5 separate regions of the Homo sapiens genome follow, and all the other regions are linked to region 1. The links come from fine-mapping of genetic effects on gene expression. A gene starts in region 1. Each other region holds a variant in brackets. All regions are shown on one strand. Distances are between the middles of the regions.

Region 1 (5,888 bases):
CATCTAAAACAACTGCCACTTCAGCTGTGGAAGCTCTATTAGGGAATTCTAGAAGGCATAATCCTGGGCACTAACCTACCAGCCAAGGGTGCCTGTGAATTATAGTACCTTCCCTCTTCCAAAAGGTAGAACCTGCTAGACGCAAGGCCTAAGGGGGAGCTGTGGTGAGAGGCCCAACCGGTTTTTTTTTTTTTTTTTTTTGAGACAGAGTCTCACTCTGTTGCCCAGGCTGGAGTGCAGTGGTGCAAAATCCGCTCACTGCAACCCCTGCCTCCCAGGTTCAAGAGATTCTCCTGCCTCAGCCTCCCAAGTAGCTGGGACTACAGGCGTGTGCCACCATGACTGGTTAATTTTTGTATTTTTAGTAAGACGGGGTTTCACCATGTTGGCCAGGATGGTCTCAATCTCTTGATCTCGTGATCCACCCGCCTCGGCCTCCCAAAGTGCTGGGATTACAGGCGTGAGCCACCGCGCCTGGCCAAGATGCCCAACTCTTAAGGAGAGAAAACTTCATGAGGCATTGCAGTACAGACCAGGCAGGATGCTCCAGACGTCTTGGGTTCACTCACAGGGAATATTTCTTTCTGTCAAATAAGGAGGTTACCCTGACACATTTCAGACAAAAAACAAGCTAGCATCTTTTGGCTTGGGGATACAACAGAGTCTGGTCTGATCCTGCTTTTAACTTCTTTATGAACGAATTATAGCACCACTTGTCTTTCTTAAAGTTTCCTCAGATCCCATCAGAAAATTTTCTGATGACCAGCATATGCCCACAGTAGAGTATAAAACAGAACTACCCAGCCACTGAAGTCAACTTTAGCTCTAAATGAAAGTTTTATGTCTCCTGAGCTTCCAAACAGGAAAATTATATCATGGCTGACAGTAAAGTAATTTAATTGCACTGTTGCTATGACAACATGCTGCTCTCTTTCTTTTTAATTTGCTTATTTGTCAGTAGCTTCCCAGAGGAACTAACACGCTATTCTCCATGTTTCCTTTTGTTTTAAACAAACACTGCCAGCAATATGGTTTTAGGAGAAAAAGTGGCATTGTCACGAAGAGAGGGTTATGGGAGTTCAGTACCCTTGGATCATGTGTGCGTTTTGTGCTGGGACCCCGTACTCTCCAACCACTCACTGCATCCCTATAAATCCCGCATTTTATACCAACAGGGTGAAGAGCTGCTGATCACTACAGTTCCATGTAAAAACAAAACAAAACAACAATAACCAAAAAAAAAAAAAAAAAAAAAAAAAAACAGTTCCCAGAAACCACAGCTGAGGAGTTTTCCATTATTATACTCTAACTACAGATTTCGCCAAATCTTTTTTTCCTCCTGTTTCAGAGGGAAAAAAAAAGAATCTGGATCATGTGAGTTGCAGTTAAGCAAACATTTTTAATCTGCTGCCAACAAGGCTGCTCCACCAGATACGCAAATAGTTATTCACTGGTGACCTCCTTACAACTTTTCTCTACACACACACACACACACACACACACACACACACACCCTCTTTTGTTTTTTTTATGACTTGCTGTGTTTTGTTACCCTCTTTATTTTTTAACGGAGAAAATGCGGCAAGAAAGCTTAGTTTCTCGCCTAGTAAACAGAAGGTCTCCAAATAACTGACAAAGACATTACTGGCCCAGCTCTGAACAGATGTTCGATGCGAACTTTAAAAAGTTAAGAAATCTTCCCAGAGCCGAGCAGTAGCGAGTTTGGGGGGCCGGGTCACCCCCGCCCACCCAGCACGCGCGCGCGCGCACGCACGCGCTTCACTCTCGTCTACTGTACTTGTCAAAAACATTTCAAGGGGACCTGCGGGAGTGGCGATTGGCTGCACCCCGCGTCAATCAGCGGCGTTGCCGGGCAACGGGGGAAACTGCTCTTATCCCCATATACAGGGCAATTGGGAGCTCGCATACCTTCACTGCCGGTCAGATGTCATAAACCTTTTATTGGCCGCACCGCGGCGAGCCTCGAAAACAAATCAATAAAAGCCCGCCGTCCCCCAACTTATCCAGGGCCCAAGGAGGGTTTCAAACAGGGCCGGGATGAGGGGGGTCGGGCCTCGGGGGTCTCCGGAGACGTTCGTTGCCTGTGCCAAGTCTGCACAGTTTGGCCGGGGGGTGATCTTTGTTAGGAGCCTGTTTCTCATCTTGGGGTCTCCACTTGATCGGAACCCCCTCCCCGGCCCGGAACGGCGGGGACCCCGTCCTCCGCAGACAATACCAACTCTGTTCCTTGCGGGCGTCTTTTCGGAAACCGAGGCACCGGGAAGCAGCACGCACGTCGGGGCAGGAAACTCTTCGGACCCGGCAACTTCCCGGCTCGGGGGCTCCCGGGGTCCACACCCGACCCTCCCCCCAGGACCTGCGGGGTCCCTCGTCTTCCCAGAGCGGCGAGGTAGTCTCCAGGACCGTCTCGGACGCGCCTCCCGCCCCGGGTGCCCCCCGAGCCCACGCGGGAGCCGGCAGGAGCGGGGTGCAAACTCACCTGGCCGGAGCGGGGCACGGGGGTGCGGGGGCGCCGCTGCCCTTCAGCAGGAGCCGACAAACTTTCGCGGGCGCCCGGCGGGCATCGCTCGGTGGCCCCGCTAAGGACGCGCGGGCGCGGCGCGGCGAGCCCGGGGCGGCGGGCGGCGGGGGGCGGCCGCGGGCGCGGGCGGCAGGGGCGCGGGGGTCGCGGCGCGGCATGGGACCTGCGGCGTCCGCCGGGCGCGCCGCGCGTCCTCCCGCCGGCCCCGCCGCTCTCCCCGCCCCGTCCCGCCTCCCGCTCGCCTCCGCCGCGGCGCGTCGGGCCGGGGCGCGCCGAGCGGCGAGAAATTGTTTCCACTGCAAACAAAAAAAGGCGACACATGACCAGGCAGGAGGAGGGGAAGCGCGGGGAGGGAGGAGGGCGGAGGGAGGGACAGAGCGGAGGGCGGAGGGAGCCGGAGAAAGGGAAAACGTGGGCCTGGCCGCCAGCGGCCTGGGGCGCGGGGCACTGACCCGCCGGGGCGGACCCTGCCCGCGCCCCTCGCGCGCCCCAGCACTCAGCCAGGGCGGAGGCCGGGGCTGGGCCGCGCGGCCTCGCCTCTTGGGCCCCGCGGGGCGGGGGTGACCGGCGCGGGTCCCGCGACCCAGGGCGGCCGCGACCGTGGGCGGTGGGGCAGGTGGGTCAGGCGGCGCGTGCCCTGTCCCCTCCCCGGGCTCCGGCCACACGAGCGGGCCGGCGCTGCGCTGCTGGCAACGTGTCGCGGGAACGCTCCTACCCCATCTGCATGCCTTACATGGCTCGAAAGTAAAAATAAAAAGAATTACGATGCGGGCGAGGCTTGTGGGGGTGAGAAGAGGAGATTCCACGTCTCCCCAGTGCTGCGTCCTGATAGGACCCCCAGGGCCTTCCGAGCCCTCTCCCAGCGACCACCTCGTGTCCCGGAGGTAAGCACCGCAGCGTCCCACCCAGGTGGCCGCGTGTCTCCCGAGGGAGGGCCGGTGGCCATTACAAGACAAGAGGCACCGTCCTAAAGGCCACGCCGGTGGGGCCTCTCAAGTGGGTTGTGCGGAACGCCCCGGCCGGCCTAGAGAGAAAACAGGTCTCATTTCCATCTCAGTTTGAGCTCTCAGGAACCAGACTGACAATTCGCAAGCCACCCAGCGAAATGGTGCAGCCACCACTCTAAGTCTCTAGGCACCTCCAAATAATAGCACCCACTGCTAAAGCCACACCAACCAGCCGCCTTGGGAGAGGATGAGAGGAGAGAGTCCAACAGGACACCCTGGTGGTGACAAAAATAAAAATGTGATTGCACATTACTCCCAGGTAGCCAAATTGGTTGGTTCCTCTACAGAGGAGAAGCCCAGGGCACCCTTCCTGCCACCCCCTCCTGAGCCAGTGGACAGGACATCGTGAGCGGTCTGAAAACTACAGAAAAAAACAGCGAGTAGACCTGGAGAAAGCTTTCTAGCATGCAGTACTTTTAAACCTAGCCAAAAGGAGGGACTAAGGGAAACACCAGTTAGGCTTCTGAAAATTTTTTCTGTCTCAAAAAATAGACCCCCCCCCCCCAATCTGAGAGTCATTCCCCCTAACAAAGGTTCAAGAGGGCAGGTGACAAGTCTTCAGCAAAGATGTGCCTTTCAGACTCACCGGAGACCTTACTACTTCCAAGTTGTGTGGCATCTCCCCATCTGGAGACAATTAGGAGGTGGAAGCCCAGGGGTAGCCTGAGGTCATCCAGCCCCACCCCTTTGATTACTGAGCACTTGATGCGACCTACCCAAAGTCACTAAGCAAAAGGCACAAGGTGGCAGAGACAAGTCAGATGATCTTTGAAGTCTCACGCCAGAGATTCTCAGGGTTAGAAGTGGTAACAAAGCCAGGATGAGACAATGTGTACCCTGCTTTCCTGTAGCTCCGGCTAATGCAGGTCCTGCCCCTCCATCAGCGCGTCAGTTGAGGGTGCTTATTCTCCGCCAGAGGAACCAAGGCCAGAGACCTTTGTCCAAGCCCTTGCTGGCCTAGAGAGGACGAAGTCGCCCCCTTACATCTTCCTCTTCCATCCCCAGCCCCCAACCCCACCCCCAAGTCCCCCAGCTACACTCACACAATAGCCAGAAATCTCTTTATATTAAGTAGAGGTGGCACCTTATTTTCACCGGCCCCAGTCCCCTCCTGCTTTCTCAGAGTTCAAAAAGAGGGGATGTGAGCCAAAGGTGATTGTACATGGAATATGTCATTCCATGTGTGTTTTTGCTTCTTGCATTCTCAAACATATTTCTTAATTTCTCTCTCCCATTACAGTTGCAGCAAGAGATGTGAGAAGGTGTCACCCTGAAGAGGAAGTGGTGGACCAGCCCTGCCTGATGTGGACAGCAGGGGACACATGTCTGCCTGTCGGTCTATCTGAAATGGGGGAAAAAATGCTGAAAGCCAAAGGAGGGCTTAATGTGGCCTTTTCCACCTTCTAATTCCATAGAACCTCAGCTCTGGGACTTGCTTCCTGACCTAGGGTGCAGGGGCCAAATTTGTTTGGGAACAACCCCATTCACAATTCCCCATGAACTTTCAGAAAGGACCCTTGCGTCTTAGGTCCTGAGAAGTCACAAATAAGCAAGCTGCATTGTCTAATGTCTTGTCTACACTGTTTTACAAACACATTTAACAGCCGAATTGTATATGTGCCCTAGAAATCACTTTGAGAAACACTTATTTCCTGATAGAGGACTTGATGGGACCATTCTGCAGCCCCATCTGAGCATGGGCTGGAGAGTACATAAGTATCTGGGAGCTGGAAGTCCTCAATTCCAGGCTTATCTGCCCCCATCAGCGTGGGACCTCAGTTCCTCCTCCAAGGAGAAGAGCGCCCCTCCCTTGATGTTTTGTGCATTCTTTTGCTAAATGTTTCTCTGGTCAAGAACTTTAATCCCCCTACACACACACTGTATTGGTTATTAGAGCAGCATGGCTATTTATGGAATAGTTAAGTATAAAACCCGATATACCTTGCCCCCCTTGAGGCAGTACAACTGAGTAGGTGAGCAGGTGCAGTCGGGAAGACCTGAGAGACTGCCCAAAATAGGAAGAGTCCGAGGCAGGCCTGGAAAGACAGTCTTCTGGGGAGGGATCCTGCAAAGAGACTCCAGTACAAAGGATATATGAGAGGAAATACGGGGAGGCTGGGCAGGCACACACCGCTGGCCTGCACAGAACCATATTCCTTTCGTGCTTCCCTCTATAGGTGACTCCACTCTCTACCCTGCAGGTTGGCTTCCTCTGCTCAATGATAACCACACAGGGCTGCCAGCAGCAAGCCCTGAGGCCTTCTGACTTTTAGCACCCACCACCTTTGAACTGCCTCAAGCCTTCCATGACATAGTTTAACTTCTCAGGGAAATAGTGC
Region 2 (5,888 bases), 59 kb before region 1:
ACTGAGAAAAATTACATGGAAAAATGAGTAAAAAAAATTATGGATGAGCCCAAGTTTCTTTTAAAATTAAAAACCACCTGGGGGAATAAAAATCAACTCTCTATTAAAAATAAAAAATCAATGCACAAAAAGAAAAGCAAACAAGAGCCCATATTGTAGGAAGAAATGGTTAGCAAAAATGTAAAAAAAAAAAAAAAAAGTAATTTTTTTTTTTCTTTTTGTGGAAATGGAGTCTCACTCTGTCGTGCCCAGGCTGGAATGCAGTGGCGCAATCTCAGCTCACTGCAACCTCCGCCTCCCGGGTTCAAGCGATTCTCCCGCCTCAGTCTCCCGAGAGGCTGGGATTACAGGTGCCCGCCACTATGCCCGACTATTTTCTTTTTTTTTTGTATTTTTAGTAGAGACGGGGTTTCGCCATATTGGCCAGGCTGGTCTCGAACTCCTGACCTCAGGTGATCCGTCTGCCTTGGCCTCCCAAAGTGCTGGAAATACAGGCATGAGCCACTACGCCCAGCCTATACTTTAAACATTGTTATTCAAACCGTGGGCCAGATACATTCATGGGTCATGAAATGAACGGAATGGATCATAAGCAGCACTGTTTTAATGGAACAGAATGTAACAAACTAGAACCAAATAGAATGGACTACCATATATCTGCAGTAACATATAGTGAAATTTGTATTTGCATAGTTGTGTATATACATGTTTACTGATCACCAAGTAACATACACTTCTTACTGGGAAGCCGGGTCAACAAAGTTTGGTATCCACTGATCTAGGACAGTAGTGTCTGGTTGTGTTTTTTCCCCCTTCTCACCACTTGTGAGGAAGAAAGCCCCCTATTAGCAACAGTGGGGGACTTACACGTGGCTCTGGGGCAGTGCCTAAAGAACGGGGATAAGGAGGCAGGCCCCATGTCAAAGTGGAGCAGGCACCACCTCTGCCCAGGCCTGTTCTGCCCTGGCCAGGGAGGGATAGCCTGTAACAATTTCAGTTTGTGCAGAACATTCAGGTATGAAAAGAAAAAAAAAGAAAAAAGAAAAAAGGACCAAAAAAAAAAAAGTATGATTTTTAGACTTTAAAATTAAGACAGGCCAGGCATGGTGGCTCACACCTGTAATCCCAGCACTTTGGGAGGCCGAGGTGGACAGATCACCTGAGGTCAGGAGTTCAAGACCAGCCTGGCCAACATGATAAAACCCCATCTCTACAAAAATACAAAAATTAGCCAGGCATGATGGAGGGTGCCTGTAATCCCAGCTACTTGGGAGGCTGAGGCGGGAGAATCACTTGAACCCTGGAGGCGGAGGTTGCAGTGAGCCAAAATCGTGCCATTGCACTCCAGCCTGGGCGGCAGAGCGAGACTCGATCTCAAAAAAATATATAATAATAATAATTAAATTAAATTAAATTAAAACAACACAGAAAGTTTACATTTTATAACAACCTTATTATGCAGATGATATTTACACTTCAGAAATATTTAAGACAATTGTAACCCTGTAAAGCTGATGAGATATTAAAACAAGACAAAAACTGAAAACGAAATGGAGTGGGGAGCTGGGTGTGTGTTGGTGATCTTGAAACAATAGCTTTTGATGTTTCTGACACACCATTTTGGAGGGTGCTTCTAACACTACCCACCTTCATTCATTCCTTCATTCATACGCTCATGCATTCATTCATTCATTCCTGTGGTGCCTACTACATGCCAGGCACCATGAAGGGTCCACTTGTGAATACAAAACAATACAAAAAGGAGACCGACCTCCTGAAGCTTGGATTATAGATGGGAAAAAACACAGTAAGTAAAGAAATAAATAAGCAAGATTATGACAGACTGTAATACCTGCTAGGAAGGAAACAGAATAAGCCATGAGTTAGAAGAAAGGAAGTTGCTGCTGTGTGAGAAATAAATGGGCTGGAAGTGGCAAGAGCACCTGCAGAGAACTGATATGACGGTCCAGGACCAAGATGACCATGGGTGTTGGTTCAGGTGGGCAGCAATGAGACGGAGAAAGGAGGACAGCTCCCGAATGTACTCTGAGGCCAGTTAGCGGCTCACACCTGTAATCCCAGCACTTTAGGAGGCCAAGGCAGAAGGACAGCATGAGTCCGGGAGTCTGAGACCAGCCTGGGCAATACAGTGAGACCCCATGTCTACAAAAAATACAAATAAAAATTAGCTAGACTGCTGCTTGAGCCCAGGAGTTGAGGTTACAGTGAGCTATGATTGTGCCACTGCACCCCAACCTGGGCAACAGAGCAAGACCCTGTCTCTTTCTTAAAAAAAGGAGATAGAGCAGGGCGTGGTGGCTCACGCCTGTAATCCCAACACTTCAGGAGGCTGAAGCGGGTGGATCATCTGAGGTCAGGAGTTCAAGACCAGCCTGGCCAACATGGTGAGACACCATCTCAACTAAAAATACAAAAAATTAGCCGGGCACGGTGGCATGCACCTGTAATCCCAGCTACTTGGGAGCCTGAGGCAAGAGAATCGCTTCAACCTGGGAGGCGAAGGTTGCGGTGAGCCGAGATCGTGCCACTGCACTCCAGCCTGGGAAACAAGAGTGAAACTCCATCTCAAAAAAAAAAAAGAGAGAGAGAGAGAGCTAGAAACCTGATAAACAGCAGTTGACACTGGCAATGCAGATCAAGTAGGAGAAGTAATTGATATTCAGTAATGGTGTGGGATCATTTGATTTTCCATATGAAAAAATATGTATATAAACATATACTAACTGGGTTTGTGTACATATACTTTGTGATGTTCTCATGATGATGCAATTGCCTAACGACGTATTTCTCAAAACTTATTCTCGCTATTATGCAACGCGCGACTGTATCTGGAGGAATGGACTGCATAAGCCACCTCTCTCCCCTCTGCTATACCCTCATTGACCCCAACCTTTCTAGCAGAAGCTCATAAATGTCATGGTAGGCCTGAGATTGTCTGGCTTTAGAGGTTTAACATCAACTGGTTCCTCTGTAATAGGGGTTAGTAAACTTTTCTTAAACAACTTCTCTTTCTGTTACCAGGTCCTCTAATGCATGGCCAGGTCCAACGGCTTCTCAAAGTACATTCTATAGTCTCTGTAGGTCACATGGTCTCTGTTGCAACAACCCAACTCTGCCATCATAGCACAAAAGCAACCATCAAT[G/A]TAAACAGATAAACGTGGCTGGGCTTCAGTAAGACCTTATTTGCAAAAACATTATCCATAGTTCACTGCCCACTGCCCTACAGCTCCAATACTGGTACCCAGGACTGAGACTCACAACTCCCAGTTTTAGGAAACTTAAAAACCAGAGAAGGAGTTTTCAGGGTTAAGGGATTTGGGCTGGGTCCTGTGGGATGGGTGGGGTGTGGATGATGGCCTAAGTCAAGTGCTCCAAGGTCGAAAAGGAAGACCCCCATTGGGGGATACAGACACGGACTAGAGTAAGTTACCCCATCCGTAATAAGAACACATACCTGGTTGGGCTGCACCTACCATCACTGCCTTGAGTAATCATGGCATACATGCAGCTCACTCCCCACCCCGGGTCTTAGTTTCCTCATCTATAAATTAGGTGCTGAGATGAAATCATCCCAAAGGCCCATCATTCTATGCTTTGGGAACGTGTGATTACAGATTAATTAGAATACATGGGTCCTCATGTCTCCAACTCCTTCACAGTTTCAACACAGCCAGCTTTCTGTTCTAGGCCAGTACCACCCATGTGTGGGGTCAGTGAGAAACACATTATTGTGCTTTCAAAGGGGAGCCCTTACTTGGCTGACATGGACATTGGAGTCAGACAGACCCGAGTCTGAGTCTTGTTTCAATTTCTCAGCTGTGTGGACTTGGGCAAAATACATAACTGCTCTGAGCTTCAAATTTTTCATCCATAAAATGGGAGTGAATTAATAATACCTGCTTCACAAGATTGTTGTGAGGATTAAAGGAGATAATATTGTGCTTGCTTGGCACATGGTAACAGTTCAATAAATATCAGCTCTCGGGCCAGGTGCAGTGGTTCACACCTATAATCCCAGCACTTTGGAAGGCAGAGGATCACCTGAGGAGTTTGAGACCAGCCTAGTCAACATGGTGAAACCTGTCTCTGCTAAAAATACAAAAAATTAGCTGGGCATGGTGACAGGTGCCTATAATCCCAGCTACTTGGGAGGCTGAGGCAGGAGAATCGCTTGAACCCAGGAGGTGGAGGTTGCAGTGAGCCGAGATCACGCCACTGCACTCCAGCCTGGGCAACAGAGCGAGACTCCATCTCAAAATAAAATTAAAAAAAAAAAAAATCAGCTCTTGTTATTATGATGGCAACAAAATATTAAATAGCCAGCTTTCCTTGACACTGAGCTCCAAACCATTCAGTGCCTGCCTGATGGAATAGGTACTTGTCAAATTGTGAAATCATGCAGATTTCATCTAAAAAAATTGCACATGACTATTTGTTTTCCATAGTCTGATGTTAATTTCCTTGGTCCAAAAGAAGCGTTTTGTCTCAGATGCACTAAGATAGAGGTGGAAATGGAAGGATCGAAATAGAACAAAGCAAAGAGCCAGCCACTGGAGTAGTGCCAAGAAGGACATGGGACTTTGAGAAAGCTACTTGCTTTGAGTCATGTCTTCGTGCACACTGAGAGATGCTCCGGCCGGTATGGCAGTCCAGGGCTTCCTAGAGAGGTCCTGCCCCAAAGGGCTTACCACCTGCCACCTCCTTCCTTAAGGAGGAGAGGCCCTGACCCCGATACTGCAAGGGAGCAGGACAGGGCAACAGCCTGACTTAGAGAATAAAGCTGGAGTGGGCAGAGGTGGATAAGAGAAGGGTCTCCCTGGCTGGGGCAGCTGGGCCTCTGAGGCCACTGTTCTCTCACGGATCCTTGAGCTCATGGTGGGAACTGGAGCGGATATGGTCCACTTCCTCATCACCAAAAGATACTTGTAACTTTATAGAGAGGTGGCCTAGAGTTGGTACTCCTCATCAAGCTGTCATTCTGTCCAGCATATGCCACGGTCTCCCAGGATCTGGCAGGCTTGAAGGCTTCTCCTGGAAACGGCCTAGGTTTATTTCACTATGAGTGCCCAGTTAATTCCCCGGGGCCCCTGCACACTGGCCTTGCGTTTCTGCCCCCACTGCACAAAATGCCCTCCCCTCCCGCCAAAACTGCCTCCTCCTCTGGACCTGGCTCTGGCTCAACTCCTCAGGGCCCAGCTGCCCCTAAAGGAGGAAGGAGAGAGGGAAAGAGGGAGGGATGAGAGAGGAAGAGAGAGGGATGGAGAGAGAGAGGGGAAGAAAGAGAAGGAAAGAAAGAGGGAGAAAGAGAAAGGGAGGGAGGGAGGGAGGGAGAAAGGGAAAGGGAGGGAGGGAGGCAGGAAGACAGGGAGAGAGGTAAAAAGAGAGGGAGGAAGGGAGGAGGGAAAGGATGAGAGGGAGAGGGAGGGAAGGAGAAAGAGGGGAAGGAAAGAGGAAGGGAGGGAAAAACGGTGAGAGAGAGAAGGAAAAAAAGGGACACAGAGGGAGTGACGGAAGGAGGTGAGGAGAGAGAGAGAGAGAAGAAGAAAGGGAGAGAGGGAGGGAAGGAGGGAAGGAGGGAAGGAAGGAAGGCTGGGGCAAGAGCTGATACCCTCACAGCCGCAGGTTCCCCCATGTTTCCACAAAACTCATCCTCAGCTACCACCACCTCCAGCACTACCTCCACCACCACCACCTCCAGCACCACCTCCACCACCACCTCCACCACTACCACCTCCACCACCACCTCCACCACCACCACCTCCAGCACCACCTCCACCACCACCTCCACCACTACCACCTCCAGCACCACCTCCACCACCACCTCCACCACCACCTCCACCACCACCTCCACCACCACCACCTCCACC
Region 3 (5,888 bases), 150 kb after region 1:
AAGGAGAACACCCCGTGATGATGGAGGCAGAGACTGGGGTTATGCTACCCCAGGCCAAGGAACGCCCAGAATTGCTAGCAACACCAGAAGCCAAGAGAAGGGCATGGAACAGATCCCCTCCTGGAGCCTTCAGGCTGCACAGCCCCGCCAACACCTTGATTTTGACTTCTTGCTTCCAGAACTTGTGAGGGAGTAAGTTTCTGTTGCTTTCCCACCCAGTTTGTGGCACTTTTGTTATGGCAACCCAGAGAAACAAATCCACTGGCTTCATGTCCACTTTTAAGAGGTAGGACAGAAAAGAAAAAACACAGACTCACCCAGGACCTGGGAGACATGATCGAGTTCCAGGCTCCCTTCTGCAATCCCTGCCCAGGTGAAGCTCTCTGGGCCCGCCGTCCTCATCTTTGACATGAAGTGTTTGGGCTGGACGAGGCCTAAGGCCATTTTTAGCTTTAAAGCTCTAGGATTCTATCACATCATAGCCAAAATAGGCATTTGGTCTCATATCTACCAAAGGGGAGATGAAAAAAAGGAAACCACTTTCAAACTCCAGAACCCTATGCCCACAAGTAGAAGTCAAGGAGAAAGTGGAAAGAAAGAGTAATTAGTGGTGGTGGTTGCATTTGCCATATGCCACATAATCATTCCATCTTCACGTCAGATCTGGCCTGCAGCCCTCATGCCACAGCAACTTAACACAAAGAGATGCTGGGAGCTGCCAAACGCAGAAAATTAATACAAGGGATGCAAGGAGAATCTCTGCAACTACATTTTATTTCTCTAACCTGCTAGTGTCAAGGTCATTTCGCCCCGGAAATATAAAACCTGCTGTGTAGCGAAGGGGTAAAAGAAAGAAAAGAAATCCTGGCAGTTAAGCTGTCCCTGTGACCCTCGCCCCAGAATATCACTTACTTTTCATCTCACATAATTCCTGGCCGGTGGGCTCCTCGGAACTGCTAGAAACTGACAATTAGTAAAACAAATCCCACGAGTAAAGACCAACAAGAAATTCCTGTAAAAACCTCACCCATACACACTGTACTATTTTACCTTTTTTTCAAAAGTAAATTGTGGCTGTCAAATGACACCCTTTCATTACTGTCACTGACTCTTTTAAGAACGGCTAATCAGAAAAGCCTACAGAGGTATTTAATCAGATTTTTTTTTTCTTCAAATGACCTAATGTTTTGGTATAAAACTGCTGCCAGCTCACGCTGGGTAGAAATTTAGCATTGTCAGCATTTAATTATTATTTTATCACGGATTTCTTTACTTTCCTACAGGGAAGAAATAATTTTTTTAAAAAAAAATGCAGCAAGTGCTTAGCTTTTAAAATCACAAGACGCTTGCTTCATTATTGTGCTTTGTCAAAAATTACTAGCTCAGGACATGGGACATATCACGGAAATGCACTTTAGGTTAATAAGTGGTACTGCCATCACTGGCTTCAGTCTTCCAGGACATGGAAAACTGGGAAGTGAAAATTATGTTCATTGTGTTGGTTTTCGGGAAATGAGATTATTCTAGACTCATTCACATTTGTGTGTCATAGCAGCTACATATTCTCCTACCCCTAGGACACCTGGGTGAAGCCTGTGGCTTTACCATTCCCTCCTCCTCCTCCTCCTCCTCCTCCTTTCACTCCATCTTCCTTCTTCTCCACCTCCTCATCCCCTACTCCCTTCCTCCTCCTCCTCCTCCACCTCCTCTTACTCTCACCCCCCTCCTCTTCCTTACCCTCCTTCCCCTACCCCCTCCTTCTCCCCTCTTCCTCCTCCTCCCTTGCCTTTTTTCCTCTAAGGTGGGAATAAGAGAGTGGGGAGGAGAAAAGGAGGAAAAATGGAAAGAGAAAGAAAAGACAGGTGTGTATCTGTGACCTCTAGCCAACTGACCCAAGGCTACAAGTATATGGCTAATAATGGTGGCACAAGGACCAGACATCCAGGTGCGTTCCCTAAAACTACTCTTTCATTTTTTCCTCATCATTCAGCTAAAATCTCTTTTTAGAAAATTACCTGTTTCATCATCACCACCACAAAACCCTTCATCTGCCTCTCTTCCCCTTTAACCAGTTCCTTTTTCCTTGCTTTAGAGTCAAGCTCTGAATAAGCTGGAAATGTTTGGTGCAGACAAGTCAGCAACAATTCTTTCTTGAGCATCTACTGCAAGCAGATAATTGTGCTCACTTCTGAGGGTAGGATGGGGTATAAACCTAGGTATGAAGTAGTCCTAAGGCAAGACTGTAAAAGGTACAGAGCGATACTAAGGGAAGACTGTACTAGGTACAAAGTGGTACTAAGGGAAGACTGTACTAGGTACAAAGTGGCACTAAGGGAAGACTGTACTAGGTACAAAGTGGCACTAAGGGAAGACTGTAAAAGGTACAGAGCGATACTAAGGGAAGACTGTACTAGGTACAAAGTGGCACTAAGGGAAGACTGTACTAGGTACAAAGTGGTACCAAGGGAAGATTATTTATTGGCACATGATACAATTAATGAGTGGCAAGGACAAGGAAGGTTACAGTTACCTATTAGCTTCAAAGGTGTTTTGTGCCACCAAACAAATCTCGTTGATTTTTTTTTTTTTTTTTTTTAGACAGAGTCTCGCTCTGTCTCCCAGGCTGGAGTGCAGTGGCGCGATCTCGGGTCACTGCAAGCTCTGCCTCCCGGGTTCACGCCATTCTCCTACCTCAGCCTCCAGAGTAGCTGGGATTACAGGTGCCCGCCACTACGCCTGGCTAATTTTTTGTACATTTAGTAGAGACGGGGTTTCACCGTGTTAGCCAGGATGGTCTTGATCTCCTGACCTCGTGATCCACCCGCCTCGGCCTCCCAAAGTGCTAGGATTACAGGCATGAGCCATCGCGCCCGGCCAAATCTCGTTGATTTCAAAGAGAACTTGAGACTTCTCCCCAAAACCTATCCTCCCCTAAAACCTATCCTCTCGCTGCCCCCCCAAATTTCTCCCATCTTAGTAATTGTCACCTCCTAAATGTCAGCATCTGAGGACTTTGTTTCCCTCCCCGCTTCCATTCTAATGCACTAGAAAGTTCTCTACATCTTCACCACTTCTGTACTTCACTTTAGTCCAGGGACTTCGCTCACCTGGTCTCCGTGACTGCACTGCTGCCCACCTATGAACCATCCTGCATGAAACAGCAGAAGGGATGCTCTGAATAGAAACCTGACCATGCCACTCTCATGCTTGAAACTGGCCGATGTTTTCCCATGAGAGCTAGAATAAACCTAACCTCCTCCCTGCCCCTGACCACCTCCCCGCACATCCATGCCACACTCTCCCTCACAGTCGCTCCTTCCACAAGCCCCAGGGTCTTTGCACAGGCTCTGCCCTCAGCACGGAAGCCCTTTCCACCATGTGCACAGTGAACTCCTTCGGGATTTTTAGGACTCTTTGTAAATGTCAGCTCCTCAGGGCTGGCCCCTAACATTTGCGTCCTTTCTTGCTTCTTATCACAATTT[G/A]CAATTGTTCCACTTGTCTGTTTACTTGCTAATTATACAGAAATTCCTTGCTGGCAAGGGCCCCCTCTGGTCTTCTTATTCCATAACCCAACAACTAGCATAATGTTTGGCACAAATGAGAAATTCAGTATTTTTCACAATGAATAAATAAAATGCTTATTTATTTCCCAAAAAAAGTCTATGTGACAGGAGGAAGCTCCTAAATGTATTTACACATGGTTTGGATCATGGATGGTTTGGCCCTTTCTTAGATAAACTTCAAGTTGAGTTATGATTATGTTTAAAAGGCGCCATTGGCCGGGCACGGTGGCTCACGCCTGTAATCCCAGCACTTTGGGAGGCCAAGGCGGGCAGATCACGAGGTCAGGAGATCGAGACCAACCCGGCTAACACGGTGAAACCCCATCTCTACTAAAAATACAAAAATATTAGCCGGGCGTGGTGGCGGGTGCCTATAGTCCCAGCTACTCTGGAGGCTGAGGCAGGAGAATGGCGTGAACCTGGGAGGTGGAGCTTGCAGTGAGCCAAGATCGCACCACTGCACTCTAGCCTGGGGGACAGAGCGAGACTCCGTCTCAAAGAAAAAGAAAGGTGCCATTTCCATTATCCTACCCAGACTACCCACTGACAGCAGAAGGGCAAAATGCATGGAGGGTGGGGGTGGGTGCCCATCTAAGAGTCAGGGAAAGTAGTATTTAATACGTAGGTAGTGGAAAGTGACCTTGGGTGAGCAGTGGGCTGTAACAAGTCCTCCCAGTAAGATTTCAGCCCAGCTCTGCTGAGCTGCAGCTGTGGCCTGCCTTCTATTTCCACCTCCTAAAGGAAATGCTGCTTCCTCCATGAGGCGGCTGTGTGATCACACTGAGCACTGTATACTGAACCAACTTAAAATGTATGGCTACTTTGGAGGTCTACCTGGACACACCACTGACATAGATAATCAACCTCAAAGAAAACTTCATGCCACCAGAAAATCTTGATCATGACAAATTAATCCAACATATATTTGTTGAGGCCAGACATTGTTCTAGGCAATGGAGAATAATAGTTAAAATGAAAAACTAGTTGCTGCCTTTAAGGGACTTACAGACCAGAGTGAGAGGAGTCATCTATACAACATCTATACATCTGTGGCCTCAGATCCGTGCCTGCCAAAGGGCACCATCATCATACCTGATGGGGAGCCATCAGGTGTTGCTCTTGGCCATCACCCTGACTCCTCTTACCACCCAGGGAGCTATCCACAAGGAACAAGGGCCTAAAAGGAAACTCAATTTAACTTTCTCAAGAGCTGAGTCCAGTGCAGAGCTCCGGCAAGGCTTACTTACTCACCTGGCCACAGGGAAGACAGGAAACACGTGGAGTCACTTGGTATGTTTTTTTTTTTTTTTGAGACGGAGTCTCACTCTGTCGCTCAGGCTGGAGTGCAGTGGCGCAATCTCGGCTCACTGCAATCTCCGCCTCCCAGGTTCAAGCGATTCTCCTGCCCCAGCCTCCGAGTAGCTGGAACTACAGGTGCATGCCACCACGCCCGGCTAATTTTTTGTATTTTTAGTAGAGACAAGGTTTCACCATGTTAGCCAGGATGGTCTCAATCCCCTGACCTCGTGATCCGCCTGCCTCAGCCTCCCAAAGCGCTGGGATTACAGGCGTGAACCACCGCATCCAGCCGGTACACTTGGTAATTTTTAAGGCACAGTAATCTTGCACATCATTGCTTGTGGCCCATTTCAAGTTCTATAATTTGGCATATCAGTCTCACAGCTGCTCCACCCAAGCAGTGTGGAGGGCAGTTGAAGGGTGGAGCCGAAAACATGGTGTCCCTTGCAGCAAACCTCATGATGCATTAAGAAGCTCTCCCATTTTACAGATGAAAAAACGGGAAAATGAAGGGATTGGATTGCTAAGGCCATAAAGCCATGGAATAGCTGAGTAGGATGGAAAACCAAGCTTGTCCAACCCACGGCCTGCCAATGGCATGCGGCTCAGGACGGCTTTGAATGCAGCCCAACACACATTTGTAAACTCTCTTGAAACATTATGAGTTTTTTGCAATTTTGGTTTTTTTTTTTTAGCTCATTAGCTATCATTACTGTTAGTGTATTTTATGTGTAGCTCAAGACAATTCTTCTTCAAATGTGGCTCAGGGAAGCCAAAAGATTGGACACCCCTGATCTAAACCCAGGTCTTTGGACCTCAAGTTCAGTTGTCTACCTTTGCCTTCAGACTAACCATGGTAGCGATGCCCCATGTAGGAAGTGGATTTTACAACAAATCCATAACCACTGTCAGCAAATAAAAGTAACCATTTCTAGACATTTCAAACTTTGTTGAAATTTTAACTATAACTATCCAGAATGACCTAGACATTTAAATAAGAAAGGAGCACTAAGTAGCTAAAAGCCC
Region 4 (5,888 bases), 53 kb before region 1:
TCCACCACCACCTCCACCACTACCACCTCCAGCACTACCTCCACCACCACCACCTCCACCACCACCTCCACCACCACCTCCACCACCACCACCTCCAGCACCACCACCTCCACCACCACCACCTCCACCACCACCTCCACCACCACCTCCACCACTACCACCTCCAGCACTACCTCCACCACCACCACCTCCAGCACCACCTCCACCACCACCTCCACCACTACCACCTCCAGCACCACCACCTCCAGCACCACCTCCACCACTACCACCTCCAGCACCACCTCCACCACCACCTCCACCACTACCACCTCCAGCACCACCTCCACCACCACCTCCACCACTACCACCTCCAGCACCACCACCTCCACCACCACCTCCACCACTACCACCTCCAGCACCACCTCCACCACTACCACCTCCAGCACCACCTCCACCACCACCTCCACCACTACCACCTCCAGCACCACCTCCACCACCACCACCTCCAGCACCACCTCCACCACCACCTCCACCACTACCACCTCCAGCACCACCACCTCCAGCACCACCTCCACCACCACCACCTCCAGCACCACCACCACCTCCTCCTCCTCCACCACCACCACCTCCACCACCACCACCACCACCTCCAGCACCACCTCTACCACCACCACCTCCAGCACCACCACCACCTCCTCCTCCTCCTCCACCACCACCTCCACCACCACCACCTCCAGCACCACCACCACCTCCTCCTCCTCCACCACCACCACCACCACCTCCAGCACCAGCTCCACCACCTCCTCCTCCACCACCACCACCACCACCACCACCATCTCCACCACCACCACCACCATCTCTACGACCACCACCACCACCATCTCCACCACCACCTCCACCACCACCACCACCACCATCTCTACGACCACCACCACCACCACCATCTCTACGACCACCACCACCTCCACCACCATCTCCACCACCACCACCACCATCTCCACCACCACCTCCACCACCATCTCCACCACCACCACCACCACCACCACCACCACCACCATCTCCACCACCACCTCCACCACCATCTCCACCACCACCACCACCACCACCACCACCACCACCACCACCACCATCTCCACCACCACCTCCACCACCACCACCACCAGGCCAGAATGCAGACTTCAGTGGGTCACAAACCCATTCAAACTTCCGTGGGCCTAACGAAAGGTGGATCGTTGGGCCTGATTTTGAAGCAGGTCCCTGAACACCGCTTGTAAAGAGCTAACAGCACAGGAGTTGGGCAGGGCCCTGTGACACAAAGGCAGGGTCCGTTTCCTTAAGGTGGGGAACCTCTAGAGGAACACAAACAAGAAGTGATTACAAAGGATTACACAAGCTGGCCAATGGGCTGCCAGACAACAGAGGACAAAAGAGATGAGCCCTGGGGGAGGAAGGGGTTAAAACTGCAGGCGTGCACACACATGTGCACCAGCTCCTCCTGGGGCCTCACATCCCTGCTCAGGAAGCCCCTCCAGCTCCCACCTGGGCTATCCCCACAGTAACACCCCCACATCCCCAGCCTCTTAGAGGCTGGGTTCTTGTCACCATACCTCCTCTGGCCTTCCCACCAAACCCCTGCATGGGGTCCAAGTTCCCAGGGTCATGTGTCTCTTTCAAGATCATGAGAGACAAATACTACAAACTAACCCATGACTATGTGCCCATGAGGGGCCACAGGCAATGCCAGGACTTTCCCAGAGAACATTCTGGAAAGAATCCCCACATGTAGCTCCCAACAAGGGGATCAAGTGGTATGGTTCTTGTCTACACTGCTAACTTGCTGTGTTACTGGATGGACAAACCACTTGTCCTCTTAGCTTCACAATCTCTTCATCTGTATATTGGCAAAAATACCATCTTCTCCAAAAGTCATTTTGGGCTTAAATGGGATGATGACGTATACAATATACCTAACACCATACTCAGCATGGGAAAGGCAGTTAATCCACTTAATTCTCCTCTCTGTCAAGGGACGTCACAGTAGAAGTTAGGTGGTACTAGCAGAAGAACAAACAGAACAGAGCCAAGTTATTCACCATGAACTTACAGCCTCTGCTTCAAAATATGTAAGGAAGGAAGGCCAGGTGCAGTGGCTCATGCCTGGTCACAGGACTTTTGGGAGGCTGAGATGGGAGGACTGCTTGAGCCTAGGAGGTCAAGGCTGCAGTGAGCTATGATCGAGCCACTGTACTCCAGCCTGGGTAACTGAGCAAGACCCTGTCTGTAAAATATATATATATATATATATATATATATATATATATATATAATATATATATATATTCTTCCATATCAAAATGTTTAGCAAGTGACTGATTCCTGAAGGCCCTTCATTTTCTAAAATTCTATCATTTACAGTCTAACGACATTGGGGAAATGTTTACACTTCAAAAATTTAAAAAGAAAACCAGCCAAGTACATAAAAGAGGGAAGAAGAGAGGCAAAAAGAACAAAACTGATTACAAAGAATTTTTTTCTAGATACCTTATTGTCTATTCCCATAACAAGATCGACAATTACTCCAGCAGTTTAGATTAAAAAAGAAAAAAAAAAGATTGCTGTAATAACTGAGAGAAAGTTTCAGTTTTATGTCCAACCTTGCTCTCTAATAGTTTCTTTTTGTTTGTTTTTTTGTTTTGTTTTTGTTTTTGTTTTTGTTTTTGTTTTTTTTCAGAAGGAAAGATGGAAAAGAGAAGTTATCATTTCTTTCTCAAGATCCTGGCCCCATGAGCCTCAGTGTAGCCCTAGTTCCTGGGATCAGCACCAACAGGCAGGGAGGAGAGGCTCTGGCGCCCTGCAGACAGCACCAGGTTCTTGGCATCAGGAGCTGGATACAGAGTCCCTGATAATCCCAGCCACAGAATATTTCAAACTCACCGACATGTCCTCTAAATATCAGATATGAAAAGGCTTCCACTCTTGCACCTGTCTTGCTATTATTTTACAGATGTGTTCTAAAAGCTATAAAGACGGAAATCACTATTAGTGTGTCACTTATGTGATATTCAGACACCTGAGCTCTGTGATGATTTTAATGCCCCACAGGTCTTTCAGAAATCCACCTCATATACCTCAGAACGCCCCTCCATCTGCAAGGGAACGCATGTGGAACAGGTGGAGAAGGAATTCTTTTAGGCCCATGGGTAGAATTGTAAGGACTCTTGTAAATGCTTCTTCTGTAGTAGAGAAGCTGGACGGTATGTGTGTGTGCTTATGCGTGTTTGAATGGACGCAGGAAAAATCAATAATCTGCTTGCATCAACACCTAAATAAAACCAAAATAATCCCATGATTTGCCTAAAACCAAATTAATCTCTAGGAAAAGCCTGCTGTGACAGAGTTGTGTGGGGG[C/T]GGGAATTACAAAAGAAACGCAGAATTTCCCCGAGCTTCCGCTTTGCAGGAATCTCTGTTCCGTTACTCACTATTTTGAGAGAGCCCTGCTTCTTCCTCCTTCTCCCCACCACACGTCAATGTCATTTTCACAGGGGGGAGGCTACAGGAAGCACACATCTGCAGTGTGTCACCTCCCGAGGCTGACAGATCTACTCAGTATTTGTTTGGGTTGAAAATAGTTATTTTTTTGTACTCTCTACACTATTGTTTCCCAAGTGCCAAAAGCAGTCAAGAGCTAGCACGCTAACAACGATCAATCATAAAATGATCATGAAAACATCCAAATTATATTGACTTTGAAATACTGTCAAACTCTACACTGCTAAGTTCTAATAAAGAAAAGGAAACAGAAACACACCCCTCATACTCCAAGTCAGAAGGCCAAAGAGGTGGCATCTTTAAAATCACTATCTAGCTAAATCGGTTTTATCCAACTAAATCTTAGGATCCTCCCAAATTAGTTTTACCACTCTGTCTTGGGAGGGCCTTTAGCAAATAAGGGTTTAACTCTTCTTCTCCATCTGAAACCTCATCGCATGACATAGGCTGACTAAAAAGGGTAGAGGCACAGAAGCATTTAAAAAAACTTCAAACACATGCAAAACACACAGGAAGCTAAAAAGCGGATCGTTTTATATACTTCTAATAGCTGCCATGCTATGCCACTTCAAAGAGTCAAACTATTACTCAAATGAACTCAATATATTATGTGGCATGAAGCCATAAACTCTCACGTACACACAAAGTACACATGGAGAGATTTTAAAATTTAACATGAAAGTTAAATAATTATTACAGAGAAACATAAAGTAACTAGAATAACTAACATAAAGTTATTCTGTAATAACTTTATTATAGGCCGAGCCCAGTGGCTCACGACTGTAATCCCAGCACTTTGGGAGGCCGAGGCGGGTGGATCACGAGGTCAGGAGATTGAGACCATCCTGGCTAACATGGTGAAACCCCGTCTCTACTGAAAAATACAAAAAAATTAGCCTGGTGTGGTGGCGGATGCCTGTAGTCCCAGCTACTCGGGAGGCTGAGGCAGGAGAATGGCATGAACCCGGGAGGCGGAGTTTGCAGTGAGCCGAGATTGCACCACTGCACTCCAGCCTGGGCGACAGAGCGAGACTCCGTCTCAAAAAAAGAAAAAAAAAAAAACTTTATTATAGAAAAAAACATGCACATTTGAAAAGTTTTGTCTCCTGATAGGAAACAGGAATGTACAATGATGTGGTAAACTTGTCTGGAACGTGGGCATGTTCCTCTTTTTTTCTAACAGTTGTTTGTATCACACCCACAATCTTAAAGTCGAAATTGCATAAGCAAATTACAAAGAGGATAAATGGTAAAGTAAAAGACATACATTAAATTGCCCTCTTCGTGCCTTTTTTAAAAAAAAGTTTGAAAGGCAAGCTGACAGTGCTAGTAGGGATGAGGGGAAATAAAATTCACCACTCATTGCATTTACATAAATAATGTGTTTAAATACATAAATATTCATTTTTAAAGCTCAAGGCCTAGTAAAAGAATTTCTAAGCATATTGAATGAAGTGGAGGGGGCAGCTGACAGCCAGCTCTGACTTCAGGCTGCAACTGGGCGCGCACTCCTTCCAGTACCTCCACTTTCTTTAAGGTGATTTCCATGCTGCACACAGTAACAAACGAGTCAGGTTTTATGGACGGCAATAAAGGTAACGTGGGCCTGACACATGGATGCCCTTGGTTGGATTACAACTGGCCCACCTACTGCCACTTTATCTTCTGGTTGTCCGTAGTTACTCATCTATTTTTAAATGTTCCAATGTGATCTTATCAAATTGGCACATAATTTGATCACCATATTTCCATAACTGGAAGTTGTTCAAAGTACCTGGCCAGGTAACAGTGACAGGGTGTGTGTACTAAGCCAGAGAGCTTCAGTTATGATTTTTTTATTTTAATAAATAATCATGAGCCCTTCTCTCTCAGTGAAACACAGACACTGGGTTGTTTGGTGTTTGTTCTTGCGGAGTGGCCATTGGCCACGAGATCACCAGTCACCCATCTTCCCTAATTTTCAACAGGGAACTTTCCTGGGAGTTCCTGGGTTGTGAGCCTGGCTTTTAGCCACAGCATCCGGCCAACCAACACATCCACTTTTAAGGAGACACTGCCTCTACAGTGCCTCTCAATTCTAGAACAAGCACTCACTCCAACCATGAAGCAGATCCCTTTCAACAAAGGGTGTCTAACACCGACTGCACCCTGATGTGGCGGCACCCGGCTCCAAAGATAAATCCGAAACCATCTCCGACCCACATGTGAGAAGCTGCAGGGACCAAATAACATTGTCAGTGTTATCGATTCCTCCAGCGTTCTTGTCAGCGCTGGGTAAGATATGGACAAAGCACCCGGGAACCAGAGGATATGCCCGAGGTTGCCAGGGAGAGGACAGGGGTGCCAGGGAAAACTGCAGG
Region 5 (5,888 bases), 72 kb before region 1:
TCCCGAGAAGTAAATACTCACCAAGCAAATCTGCAAAGACTCCAGGCACCTACTAGGCCCATCAACACTGCAACTTTCTTCTCATGAGGTATTGGAAACACAGAGTTTCTTTGGTATCCATCATCTCAGGAGTTAGGTCAATGGAAATTTATCTGTAGTAGACTTAAAGAACTTCTAACGCTTTGGCTATTAAAATACAAACCAGGGACTGAGGGCACCCCAGGAGGTCAGAAGATAAAAAGGTAACTCGGAGTGGTTCTCTCAGTCACGAGTTTGACTCAGTACCTGAGTAAAATAGATATAATCAGCCCAGCTACTTAAACATTCAACTTTCAAAGTGAGTGTGAAAACAGAATGAAATTGGATGACTGGGCATAATATTCATGAGCTACCCCTGATACAAAGTGCTCAAAGATAACAGGGACTGTTTTCCATTTAAATAAAACAACACAGGATTGACTCAGAATTAAACGTATAATGAACAGCATACCGAAGGCAAAATGCTGAGAACAAAATTATTCTATGAGACCAACTCAGGAAATATAATGGAAGTCAAAAGACAACATGATTTGATATGAAAATAAAATTATAGCCAACTAATGGATTTTTAAAGCTCCCACTGTCAATGAGCACTGTGTTTTTTAAAGAGTGTGCCCTTACAATTTAAGCCTTTCCTATTCTTCATCCCCTCCAATTTTTTAACAAAATATAATGTATATTTGGAAGTGCTACCACTTTGAAAGCCCCGGTATTCAATCCCACATCTACTTTACTGCATTAATTTACCACACTCTCCTACCTGTTTAGCACCATGAAGCTTCATATTGATTTTTTTAAATTTAATATTCTTTCAAAAATTACTCCCAGCAAAAAGTGCTGTTTAAACATAATCTTTCAAAATGCATAATGCCTCACGCTTTTAAATTAAACTTATCCAAATAAGTGTATTGAATATGAGGGGCATTTAAAAAACTATTTCGGGTTTCCATCAAATATGTTGCTTTCAAGTAAATATATTTGTAATAATGAAGCAACTAATCGAAATCCTTGCAATCTTTCTTTATGCTTGACTGAATTAACACTTGCAATGACACCACAATCTAACAATTAAAGTCCTTCAATGTAAGTTAAAACTGATTTCATTGTGGCTTTGCAGTGCTTCTGCCAACTATTAAACGCACAACACTCTGAATAACTAGAATGAAAGATGTCTTATAAATTAAAAAATTATTGGATCCTATCCAAGCAATGAATAAGCTATTCCTTGCTGTGTGCAAATTCAGCATTCTGAGTGGAGGAATTAACACCGTTATGTTAACAAGATTAACATTTTAAGGATTTTCTAATCTTCTAATTGTCTAAAAGGATGAGTTCCCTAAACACCTCAGTACCTTCCCCACCTCCTCCCAATGCAATTCCCCTATCTACTATTCCCAGCCTCACTATGACAGCCAAAGATTATTTACCTGGTGAACAATGACTGATAACTTTGTTAATTTGAATATACAGTGACCACTCTGTACAATTTCTATACCCTTAGCAGTATTACTCTATGAAGACATTTAAATTAAAAAAAAAAAAGGACATCAATAGGGCAGCAGGCAGGATAATAGAACTTGCTGAGTCAGCACTAAAATCTGCCATTTTCATTAAGAACCTCAATATCAGAAAGGCCAAAATCTTTGGAGAGGCCATTAATGTGTGTGGTTTTTTTTTTTTTTCTTTTTTGCGGCTCGTTAAATTCCTCTGAGGAAGCAAACAGAAACAGCTAAAAGGAGAAGCTTAAATGTCTGGAATTTATTCCAAAAAAAAAAAAAAGATGAGAGTAAAAGAAACTTTATTTTGGTTGGTTTGTTTGTTTTGAGACAGTCTCACTCTGTTGCCCAGGGTGGAGTGCAATGGTGCAATCTCGGCTCACTGCAACCTCCACCTCCCAGGTTCAAGCAATTCTCCTGCCTTAGCCTCCCGAGTAGCTGATTGCAGGTGCCTGCCACCACACCCAGCTAATTTTTGTATTTTTTGGTAGAGATGGGGTTTCACCACGTTGGCCAGGCTGGTCTTGAACTCCTGACCTCAAGTGATCCACCCACCTTGGCCTCCCAAAGTGCTGGGATTACAGGCGTGAGCCACCGCATCGAGCCGAGAAACTTTCTTGAAATGTTCTAACTCTGCAAATTTTATAGTCATCCAAAAAATAAATCTTTAGACCTAGATCAGCAAATGAGTCTTGTGGATTTTTCTAACTTTGTACATGTTAAGCCACAATACTTTACATGAAATATAGACTATGATGTCATTATTTTTACATTGAAAATTTTAAAGCAAAAAAAGGGAAAGCTCATTAAAGAAAAAAAAAAAAAAACCATCTCACTCAGTTTCTGACCATCTAACACCCAATCATGGTCAATCCATCATGGAGGCCAAAGGTACGTAGGATGCTGGGATTTCTTTGGAATTACCAAGGAAACACAAAACAACGCTGGCTCTGAAAACCAATCATCCAGGAAACTCTCCATAAACCATACTGTTTGATTAAATGCAAAACCTGTTCTCCAACCATGGTGAGAGAGGATTAAAATGTTTTTCTGGAAACTGACTTTGGATTGGTGCCTATAGCAGAGAAGGTATTACATAAGACCCATATATATGTCACTCTCTAAAAACAATCTGTTGTCATAAACATTATTATGGGGAGAGCTGCTGTTTATAGGGTGTTAATGTAGTGTTACGAAGTTTAAATACCCCCACTATAAGTACCAAAATCACAAAGTCAAGGTCACCCATTGAGGAACTGTCTTTTCATTTAACTGTCAGACATTGAGAAAGGTTAGAAAAATAGAAATTTCCTAAAAAGTTGGTGGGAATGTGGACTAGAACCGAGTGTAAAATCAGAAGGCAATTTGGCAATGTCTACTGGAAACATTAAAATACGCATATTCTTTAATGAGAAATGACGTATCTAGGAAGGAGGGGCACAGGCAACATAAAGATTAGAACAGCTCAGTGGACTTTTCCGAAGAG[G/A]TACGGGCAAGCAACCCAAACACACCACCCCTCCTTCCACTTTCCAGATCTAGATTCCGAAGGCCCCACGCCAGAGTCTCCTTGGCAAAGGTGTAGATTCCCCAAGCAAGCTGGCGTGGCTCGGTGTGCATGAGTAGCCCGAGCTCAGCCACGGGTACTCTACAAAGCACAGTGGAGTGCCATTTCACAAAACTAACGTTCCAAGAACTGTAGTATCCAAACTACAAAGAGACCCCTCGTGTGGCTCAGCAGATCTTCCAGAGAATGAGGCAAAAGCAAGAGCCCTTCACAATCAGCTCTTCACTAAAGTAGGTCAGGCAACTCTCAGTGCTGCAGTGATTTTACTTTTCATTCTACCAAAAACAATCGGGATATCTAAAATTGATCAATGAGTCTGCATTTTGGAGACTGCTTTAAAAAAAAAAAAAAGGAAAGAGAAGTTACAAAGATAGCACAGAAAGCTCCTGCATACCCCTCACTTAGTTTTCCCTGATGTTAACACCATATATTACTAATAAGGCACTTGTCACAACACTGGTATACTACTATTTTTTTATTTCAATAGTTTTTGGGGTACAGATGGTTTTGGGTTACATGGATAAATTCTTTAGTGGTGATTTCGGAGATTTTAGTGCACTTGTCACCCCATAGATAGTCTTTTATCCTTAATCCCCCTCCCAACCTTCCCCCTACTCCCCTCCGAGTCCCCAAAGTCCATTATATCATTCTCATGCCTTTCCTTCCTCACAGTTTAGCACCCACTTATAAGTGAGAACATACGTTTTCCATTGGTTTTCCATTCCTGAGTTACTTCACTTAGAATAACGGCCTCCAGGCCGGGCACAGTGGCTCACGCCTGTAATCCCACTTAGGGAGACCGAGGTGGTGGATCACAAGGTCAGGAGTTCAAGACCAGCCTGGCCAAGATGGTGAAACCCCGTCTCTACTAAAAACCACAAAAATTAGCAGGGCTTCATGGTAGGTGCCTGTAATCCCAGCTACTCGGGAGGCTGAAGCAGGAGAATCACTTGAACCTGAGCGGCAGAGATCGCAGTGAGCCGAGATCGCGGCACTGCACTCCAGCCTGGCGACAGAGTGAGACCCTGTCTCAAAAAATAAAAGAAAAGAATAATGGCCTCCAGCTGCATTTAAATTGCTGCAAAAGACATTATTTTGTTCCTTTTTATGGCTGAGTAGTATTCCATGGTGTATATATACCACATTTTCCTTATCTACTCATAGGTTGATGGGCATTTAGGTTGGTTCCATATCTTTGCAGCAGCAAATTGTGCTGCTATAAACATGCAGCATACTACTATTACTATTAACTAAACTGCACAGTTAATTCATATTTTGCACATTTTCCCCTAATGTCCTTTTTCTGTTCCAGGATCCCATCCAGGACATCATAGGACACATTTGCTCATCATGTCTTCTTAGTCTCCTCTGGTCTGTAATAGATTCTAAGACTTTCCCTGTTTCTGATGACCTTGGGGCTTTGAGGAGTGAGGATCAAGTTATTTTTGTAGAATGTCCCTGCTGAAGGACAAAATCATTGTTTGATGTTTTTCCCATGACTAGACAGGGGTTATGAGTTTGGGGAGAAAGACCACAAAGCTGAAGTGCCAAATTTATGATGTCCTACGAGAGGTACCCGGTATCAACATCACATCACTGAGGATGGTACTTTCATCACCTGTGGCATACTGTTCACCAGGTTTGTCCACTCCAAACTCCCTTTTCCAACCTTTTCCATGCTCTCATCTTTAGAAGTAGGTCATTAAGTGCAGCCATTCCAGGAGTGGAGAGTTCCGTCCCACCTCTTTCAGTGGAGAAAGAGCTACATCAAGCATTTGGAACCCTCTGAATGGGAATTGTGTCTCTTCTCTCATTTATTTGTTTGTTTATTTATTCAATCATTTATTTCTATCAGTCTGGACTCATAGGTATTTATTTTATATTTCCAGTTATAATCCAACACTATGTTATTTATTTTGCTGCTCATCACCGTCCCAGCTTTGGCTACTAGGAGCAACTTCAGGCGAATCCCTTTGACACCCCTGCCCCCCACCCCACCATTTTGTTCTTTAAATATTTCCTTACTTTCTGCTTCTCCATATATTCATCAGCAAAATGTCTCCCTTAAGAAAAGGGTTGCTATGGGGTGATTTATGCCTCCCCAAAATTCCTACATTGAAGATCTAGCCCCCAGTACATCTGAACATGACCTTATTTGGGAACAGGGCCATTGAAAATGTAATTAGTTAAATAGGATGAATTATTACGGGAGAAAGATGGGCCTCTAAGCCAATACGACCAGTGTGTCCTTACAAGAAGGGAAAATTTGGACATAGACACCACATGGAGAAAACGAATGCCAAGTGAAGGTGAAGGCAGAAATCAGAGTGATGTTTCGACAGGCCAAGGAAGGCCAAAAGCATTCCAGCAAAATGCCAGTAAACCACCAGAAGCTAGGAGAGAGGGGTGGAACAGACCCTCCCTCACAGCCCACAGAAGGAACCAACCCTGCCGACACATTGGTCTCGGACTTCCAGCCTCCAGAACCTTGAGACAGTAAGTTTCTGTTGTTTAAGTCACTTGGTTTGAAGTACTCCACGCTGAGCTCTGCACTTCGATTAAAAACAATTCACAAATTTGGTATCAACAAAGCAGGTGTGGAAGAACATCCTAACATACATTCAAAAGGGCACTTTAGAAAACAGAGGCATGGGCCGGGCGCGGTGGCTCACGCCTGTAATCCCAGCACTTTGGGAGGCCGAGGCGGGCGGATCATGAGTTCAAGAGATTGAGACCAGCCTGGCCAACAAGGTAAAACCCCATCTCTACGAAAAATACAAAAATTAGCT

Evidence for each region. PIP is the estimated chance that this variant, and not a neighbour inherited with it, causes the effect.
Region 2: its variant is fine-mapped to the expression of FOXN3 in whole blood (TOPMed, PIP above 0.99).
Region 3: its variant is fine-mapped to the expression of FOXN3 in whole blood (INTERVAL, PIP 0.92).
Region 4: its variant is fine-mapped to the expression of FOXN3 in whole blood (TOPMed, PIP above 0.99).
Region 5: its variant is fine-mapped to the expression of FOXN3 in whole blood (INTERVAL, PIP 0.97).

The regions. Positions count from the first base shown.
Region 1 is chr14:89,414,371-89,420,258 of GRCh38, forward strand. It overlaps FOXN3 (forkhead box N3), which reads right to left and starts at 2,863. Exons shown (of 6, transcript NM_005197.4): 1 at 2,501-2,863. FOXN3-AS1 (FOXN3 antisense RNA 1) reads left to right here and starts at 2,984. Exons shown (of 2, transcript NR_036500.1): 1 at 2,984-3,426; 2 at 4,790-5,423. RefSeq lists enhancers at 1,715-2,009, 2,024-2,557, 2,558-3,090, 2,715-3,009 and silencers at 2,705-2,914, 2,955-3,244.
Region 2 is chr14:89,355,021-89,360,908 of GRCh38, forward strand. The region is part of intron 2 of FOXN3 (forkhead box N3); the gene reads right to left. The region is part of intron 1 of FOXN3-AS3 (FOXN3 antisense RNA 3); the gene reads left to right. Among named protein-coding and RNA genes, the nearest start is that of FOXN3-AS3, 7.7 kb to the left of the region's middle. The variant G/A (reference allele first, on the strand shown) is at 3,165.
Region 3 is chr14:89,565,146-89,571,033 of GRCh38, forward strand. It overlaps a transcript of FOXN3 not described here. Among named protein-coding and RNA genes, the nearest start is that of FOXN3-AS2, 8.1 kb to the right of the region's middle. The variant G/A (reference allele first, on the strand shown) is at 3,483.
Region 4 is chr14:89,361,684-89,367,571 of GRCh38, forward strand. All of the region lies in intron 2 of FOXN3 (forkhead box N3), which reads right to left. FOXN3-AS3 (FOXN3 antisense RNA 3) reads left to right here. Exons shown (of 2, transcript NR_188029.1): 2 at 2,711-3,325. Among named protein-coding and RNA genes, the nearest start is that of FOXN3-AS3, 14 kb to the left of the region's middle. RefSeq lists an enhancer at 3,782-3,831. The variant C/T (reference allele first, on the strand shown) is at 3,388.
Region 5 is chr14:89,341,921-89,347,808 of GRCh38, forward strand. All of the region lies in intron 3 of FOXN3 (forkhead box N3), which reads right to left. Among named protein-coding and RNA genes, the nearest start is that of FOXN3-AS3, 5.4 kb to the right of the region's middle. The variant G/A (reference allele first, on the strand shown) is at 3,022.